Linked DNA regions of Homo sapiens. The protein of the gene in region 1 interacts with the protein of each later gene in a biochemical or structural test. Each region holds a gene or a part of one and is shown in the gene's direction. Other genes may lie near its edges. The genes, in order: ASB7 and CEP152.

What was found.
Region 2: the proteins of ASB7 (region 1) and CEP152 interact in a test that uses a peptide from one of them, tested with the Homo sapiens proteins (one study listed by BioGRID).

Annotation. Positions count from the first base shown.
Region 1 is NC_000015.10:100,608,883-100,612,703, forward strand, and holds part of ASB7 (ankyrin repeat and SOCS box protein 7), read left to right. Parts: intron 1-824; 5' UTR 825-946; intron 947-3,283; 5' UTR 3,284-3,334; coding exon 3,335-3,545; intron 3,546-3,821. UniProt on the Homo sapiens protein: Probable substrate-recognition component of a SCF-like ECS (Elongin-Cullin-SOCS-box protein) E3 ubiquitin-protein ligase complex which mediates the ubiquitination and subsequent proteasomal degradation of target proteins.
Region 2 is NC_000015.10:48,804,460-48,808,280, reverse strand, and holds part of CEP152 (centrosomal protein of 152 kDa), read left to right. Parts: intron 1-2,624; 5' UTR 2,625-2,631; coding exon 2,632-2,718; intron 2,719-3,821. UniProt on the Homo sapiens protein: Necessary for centrosome duplication; the function also seems to involve CEP63, CDK5RAP2 and WDR62 through a stepwise assembled complex at the centrosome that recruits CDK2 required for centriole duplication.

The DNA of each region.
Region 1 (3,821 bases):
CTGCGGGCCAGGTTGCTAAGTGGCCCGACCTTTTCTTGTCTGAAGGTTTAAGTGATGCTCACCCACCGTCAGGGGATGAGGTAGTAGTTCTCCCAATATGTAATTCCTAGAGTTTTATGTGGAAGTCACTTTGTGTCCTTAACTTTGTTGGAATTAACAGAGCTGGAATTTAATTGACACGAAGAAAGATCCCTTTTCTTTTAGTTGTGGAGAGAGTTTATTCAGAATTCACATGGGGAACCTGGCAAGGCTGTTGTTAATGTTTTATCTAGTTCGGTGTATGCATAAAGGAATAACAATTTCAAAGTGATTGACTTGATGCCTTTAGGGCACATGAAGAAAATGCATTTAAAGACACAGTCTCCTTTTAGTTGTCATAGATTTTATTTTAACCCAGGCCACCTATTATATTTCATGCACACGTATTCTCATTTAAGTCCTGTTTAGAAAGTGCAGGTGACTTATGGTGTCGGTTAAAAAGTAATTCAGATAAAGCAAGTCTGAAACTGTATTCTCAATAGAGGAAAATGAAGAATCTATGCTTGCATCCAAATTCCAAATATGTGATTTATTATTTTTTTTATTTGCTCTTTCTCAAATAGCTGCATTTTGGGGGGAAAAGCCTGAAACTAAATAGTATTTATTGGAGATGAACATATGTAACAAGATTATTTTCTGTAAGAGTTGATCTGAGTTCTTTCTCTGCTCTATAGATTTATTGTAAAGCACTGAAGTTTACATTCATCAAAAGGTAGACTATGCAGACAGCTATGATTATTATTTTAAGGAATTTTCCTATGATTGTTATTTTTATTTGTTTCTAGGTTAAGAAGGCTTTTTTGCTCTGTAGCCTGGACGTACTTTGAAGCCCCTCCCCACGATGCTGTACGTGCACAATGGTTACTAGGCAATCCGTACATCAGGAGAAGGGACACTCTTCCATAAGGCAAGTTGCCTCAGGGTCATTGGTCATCTGTGTTGTTCCGGGGGAAAGCTCACTTAACTTTTACTTCTCTCTTAAATCAGTTAATGTATACTAAATACACCACTCACTAAAGAAAACCCAGGTTTGTTTTGATATTGTTTCAGTCTTTTTCTTGCATGGTAGGCCTCGTTTAAGTGCCAACATAATCACTTAATTAAAAAGAAAAGCTGTTAAGGATGATTGTGAGCATAGTATGTTTCCATTAATTCCTTCAGACGGTCTTCAGCATTTTCTCTCATAACAGAATAAGCAAAAACCTATTCTGAAAGGATTCTCATTTTAAAATTTCTAAGAAGGGACAATTTTTGTGAAGGAATTGAGAGAAGAAATAAGAGGCAATCTTGTGGCCGGGCGCAGTGGCTCACGCCTGTAATCCTAGCACTTTGGGAGGCCGAGGCTGGTGGATCACGAGGTCAGGAGATCGAGACCATCCTGGCTAACACGGTGAAACCCCGTCTCTACTAAAAATACAAAAAAATTAGCCGGGCGTGGTGGCAGGCGCCTGTAGTCCCAGCTACTTGGGAGGCTGAGGCAGGAGAAAGGTGTGAACCCGGGAGGTGGAGGTTGCAGTGAGCTCAGATCGCGCCACTGCACTCCAACCTGGGTGACAGAGCAAGACTCCGTCTCAAAAAAAAAAAAGAGGCAATCTTGTTTATTCCCATATTTCTCTGAGGAAATAGCTATTTGTAGAAGTAGCTTGATATTTTTAAATTTGAGCACTTAGTTGTGATACTTAGGAGTAGGTAATGACACCATTTTCTATGTATAAAACAACATAGGATATTTGTATTCTTAAGTTGTAATGATTTGACTTAACCTAGGCCTAAGTTTACTTTTGTACAGTCTATAGTAAGTTTTGCAAGATAAACGATTGTTGGTAGCAAGATTATCCTGATATGTCTAACCTACATATGAGAACAGAAATGTCTTTAAAGGGCTTCATCACAGTTTAAAAAATGTTTAGAAACAAAGGGACTACTAGTTAAGAGATGAGTCTAATCTATTCCTTCCAGTTAGCACACCTGGAGTGGCTTTCTGGAAGCTTGTTAGTTTTCTGTATGTAGTTAAAAGCTTAAAAACACACTAAAAATGTTTTTGTATACACACATGTAAGATGCAACTTTTTACCATTTCACTTTGGACTGTTACTGTTTCCATGAAGGAGGTCTCATTTTACTTTCTTATTTTAATTTTTGAGACAGGGTCTTGCTCTGTATCCCAGGCTGGAGTGCAGTGGCACAATCACAGCTCACTGCAGCCTCAACCTCCCAAGCTCAAGTGATCCTCCTGCTTCTACCTGCCGAGTAGCTGGGACTACAGGTGCACACTACCATGCCTGGCTAATTTTTTAATTTTGTATTTTTTTGTAGAGACAGGGTCTCACTGTGTTGTCCAGGTTGGTCTTGAACTCCTGGGCTCAAGTGGTCCCTTTTTCCTTGGCCTCCCAAAGTGCTGGGATTACAAACGTGAGCCACTGTGCCTGGCCAGATATTTCATTGTATGTTGGGTTTTAGTACAGTCCTTTTTTGTGACCTATTAGAGAGTATGAGAATTCACTGTACTACTTTTCCTTTTAGTAATTTGATCATGTGGTTAATCACCAGATTGTTTCGATTCTTTTTTTTTTTTTGAGACAGAATTTCACTCTCTTGCCCAGGCTGGAGTGCAGTGGCGCAATCTCAGCTCAATGAAACCTCCACCTCCCGGGTTCAAGCAATTCTTGTGCCTCAGCCACCCAAATAGCTGGGATTACAGACATGTGCCACCACACCCGGCTAATTTTTGTATTTTTGGTAGAGACAGGGTTTCACTATGTTGGCCAGGCTGGTCTCAAACTCCTGGCCTCAAGTGATCTGCCTGCCTTGGCCTCCCAAAGTGCTAAGACTGTAGGCGTGAGCCACTGTGCTTGGCCTGATTGTTTAGATTCTTAAGGTTTTAAAATATATTGCTACTTTTTTTTTTTTTTTTTTGAGATGGGGTCTTGCCCTGTGGTCCAGGCTGGAGTGCAGTGTTGCTATCATGGCTCACTGCCGCTTTGATCTCCTGGGTTCAGGTCGTCCTCCCACCTCAGCCTCCCAAGTAGCTGGGACTGATCCCCTGGGCTCAGGTGATCCTCCCACCTCAGCCTCCTGAGTTGCTGGGACTATAGGCTTGCACCACCACACCCAGCTAGTAGTATGCACTGTCATTAGTAAGGTTTACTGATGTAGCAAATGGAATGTTCTGTGATATTTAATAGATGCAGTATCAGGAACCAGTTATTCTAAATTTTACCTTTTCTACCTTCTCTTCTTAAAGGCTGATCCCCGTAACCTAATGAATCCTTTGTAAAAAGTGGACTCAGCTAGGATGTTACACCATCATTGTCGAAGGAACCCTGAGCTCCAGGAAGAGTTGCAGATTCAGGCCGCGGTGGCTGCTGGGGATGTCCACACAGTGCGAAAGATGCTAGAACAAGGCTATTCCCCGAATGGCCGAGATGCGAATGGCTGGACTCTGCTTCATTTCTCTGCAGCAAGAGGAAAGGAAAGATGTGTTCGGGTTTTTCTAGAACACGGAGGTGAGTTTTGTAGAAGCAAATCTTTTTCCCCATGGAGAAACATAAATGATGTTTAGTTTAAAATGTGTCTATTTGTAATTTTTAATGCTTCTCTTCTGTTAATACTCAACATATTATTCTCTCTCCTTTGTGAAGATTTGCTATAAGTGTGCCTTTTTGTTTAAAACCAGATTGTTTAAAAGATCAGTTTTATGAATGGATTCTTTTCCCTGAAACTGTAGTGTCTGTACAGCCAGGTTTGCCCAGGTTATTTCAGCTAAGCTACCTTTCTTCAGG
Region 2 (3,821 bases), about 52 Mb from region 1:
ATCTTGCTATTTTTTTTTTTTAAAGAAGTCTCTTTTGTTGTTCTGAATATTATACTAAAGTCTCTGGTAGCAGTGATAATGAGTGGTGATTAATAAGTTAAGGTATTAGCTTTTATTTTAAGTCTCATTTAAAATATGTATTACCTTTTTACTATATATATTTTTAACCACATTAAGTTGATCAGGTTTCCCTTTATGTCTGAAATCATTTCTTAAAGTCTTTTATAGTTTATAGTTCTGATAAGGAAAACTTATACCTTCTTCAGTGGGGGAGATTTTGGTCTTTTCAGGTATTTTTAGATGTCTTCTTTAATGACATGTTTTGAATTTAAAATAACATTAAAGATATATACTTTGATATTTTACATTCTCTTTAAAAACAAAACCCTAAGTATTCTCTATCTGAGAAAAAGTAGCTGTCTATTTAAAATATTAGTAGCTACATTTTTAGCAATAGGCTCTTATAAATCTTAATGTTCTTTTTCAATAATCAACATCAGTTGATGGCAGGTTAATAAAGGATGGGAACAAACCTCTCTTCTCTAACTTAATGAAGGAGAAAGTAACCCAAATTCCATATTTCGTCTTGTATTTATATTTGAATGAAAGAAAGGTAGAAGACACAGAATTCAGAAACAGAAAGGATTTTTTCTGCCTGGAGGATTCAGGAATTTCTTTAAGGTCCAGCTTAATTTCATCTCTTTTTTTTTTTTTTTTTTGAGACGGAGTCTCGCTCTGTCGCCCAGGCCGGACTGCGGACTGCAGTGGCGCAATCTCGGCTCACTGCAAGCTCCGCTTCCCGGGTTCACGCCCTTCTCCTTCCTCAGCCTCCCGAGTAGCTGGGACTACAGGCATCTCTTTTAAGGACATAGGATTTAATTGGGCTAGTATTTTCAATATATATAGTGTTCTGTAGAATATTAAGTCTATTTGCATAGTGGAAAAAAATCTAGAGACATGAGATTGTGTGTTTTTCCCTCACCATTTCATGTTACAGGCTTTTTATCATATTCATATCTTCATCTTATGTTGACATACAAAAGGATTCTTATAGATAGATTTATTTTCCTCGATATGCATGTCTCTTCCCCCGTTTAGCCCTGTCACAAGGGTAGAAAGGAATAGGTGTGGTCTGAGAAGCAGAGGCTGGAGGGTTTTAAGTTGAGGTATAGTCTGAGTTGATATGAGTTTAAAGGGACGGGTTGGGTGTAGGGACCAGAGAGGAAGGGATTAGAAGGTAGACTGCAAATTAGAGGTTGGCCAAGAAACATAACTCAGTCTTTGAAAAACAAAAACTTGTCATAGGGGGATTTTTACCACTGAAGTTCATATGTATGTTAATCTTTAATACCATATTCATCTATTCTAGCTTGCATATTTTCTTTTCACACTTTAATATCTACAACATAGACTGCGTCCTAAAATTAATGTTATGTCATAATTTGATTGGCTACATCTCGTTCCTACTGCTACAAATGGAACTGCATCATAGAATCAAAGACATCTTAGATCTGATGAAATGGGATATTGTCTGCTCTAGAGCTATTGGCTTCCACAAAAGTTTGTGATATAGTTCGTATCTGTTAAGACGAGGGAGCTAAGTTCTCTATGGTAAAATGCATTTGGATTGCTGGGTCTCCATGCTTCTGATTTTACTTCCAATTTAATGACATTTTAGAGCTTGAAAGGTGTAGTGAATGAGTTGTGGCTCAGGCTCACATCCAAGTGCGTTTCATTGGCATGAACAACAGTGGACTGAATGGAGGGCAGTGTTAGGCCAGGTAATTGATGACACCTGCCTACTTTTTTGTTGTGATTGTTCAGAGCTTTGAAGTTCTGAGGAGTTTATGTATAGTGTCAGGATCCCTAAGTACAAGTTAAATCAGCAGCAGCTTTTTTGAATGTAAGTAGTTGAAAACCCATTTCCTGCTGCTGCTTCTGCCGCAGCAGTCACTGCTCCCCAGGGAACTCTTGCTGTTGCTTTTGGAATTGGAAGTCCACAGTGGTGGAGCTTCACAGCCTTCACTTCTGTTTTTCCCGAGTATATTGCCAGAACCTGATTTTATCAAGCTTAAGAGGAGGACATTTAAGACTTATATTTTGTTGTGCACTCTATGGCATTGACTGAATTGTAAATGGTTTCTGGGTAGTAGTCATTCACTCATGATTTAGGGGCCTTCTTCTTGTAAAGCATGATATTTGGATTTCTGATATTAAAAAAAAATGAAGCAATAGGGTACTGCCTGTGCCATGTTTAATATATCACATTTGAAGTTTTGTTTGAGCTTAAGATTTTTACATTTGGCACATTTCTAGTTTATTATTATTGTCATCTTATTTTTCATGTCGGCAAAAATCTTACTGTTTTATACTCTTCAGACCACTAGAAAGGTCTATTCATAGCTTTATTACCTATTTGCATGTTTTCTTTTCCATGAATTGCTGTCATATAGCTATTTTCGGTGAATCACCATTATTTTTATTGGCCATAACTGAGTTATACATATTTTCTCCCAGTCTGTTTCTGTCTTTTCACTTTGTGTATGTATGGCATCTCTTATGTAGTTTGTCCTGGGGAGATTTTATGTGGTGTCCAGAAACCAAACATCTTTCCCTTCCCACAGGAGGACCATGTCATTAGACTTTGGCAGTGTGGCACTACCAGTGCAAAATGAAGATGAAGAGTATGACGAAGAGGACTATGAAAGAGAGAAAGAGGTAAGTTGTTAAAAAAAAAAAAAAAAAGAGACACTAAACCCAATCTTTAACAAGTTTTATTTCTTGATCAAAATTGTATCATCTTGTGTCATTTTGAAGGGATTTGGATTTTTTAAAAAAAAAACAACCCTAAAATCTGCTTGCTATTTAGACTGAAAAGGTGAATAAGTGGAATGCTTCTGTTTTTGAGACAGGAATAAAACACAACTGTGAATAATACCATCAGATAAATGGTTAAATTTTTCTTTTCATTTAGGAGGTAATGGTTGGCTTTGGAAGTGGAAGGTTAGTTTCTAGGTGCTTGAAACATTGCCATGAACAAGTCTGACAAGGCTCTTTGCTTTGGGTAGTTTACATCCTAGTGGAGGCAGACAATAAACAAGTAAACAAGTGAGTAAAGTAATTTGAGTGAGTGATAATTTATCATTGATAAATGACAGGGAAACAAATTGGAGTGCTATGAAAGCAATTGATAGGGGATTGCTGTAGATGGGGTGGTGAGGGAGGGTCTGTGGGAGGAGGCAATATATGAGCTGAGACTTGACTCATGAGAAGGAACCAGCCATGCAGAAGCCTGAGGAAGAGCAGTCTACGCCAAAACACCAATGAGTGTAAGCTGGGAAGTTGGGAAGAGACCCCGTGTATGCCACAGATCATGTGGAGCGGCCAGAAGGCCATGGTATTGGGTATATATGAGCCAGTGTTGGGTGGTGGATGTGGGTGTCAGATCATGGAAAGCCATGATAAGGTGTTTGTATTTTATTCTAAGAACAATGGGAAGCCAGTGGAGGATTTTAAGCAGGGAAAATTGATATCATATTTTTGAAGATCTTTCAGAAGGCTGCATGGTGAATAGATTATAGAAGGAAAGGAATAAAAGGGAGAGACCATATTATTTATATGTAAAGTGTTTAGCAGAATTCTTGGCACATAGCAAATGTTCAGTAAATGGTGGCAATAGTAATAGCAGCAGTAATAGTGTTATTGGTGGAAGTCAATTTAGTTGTTTTGGTTGTTTTTAGTGTAAGTCAAATTTCTTGATTGTCTGTGATAAAAGGCTTCTTTTGTCCTGACGCTATTTTTTATATGACCCATTTTCTAAC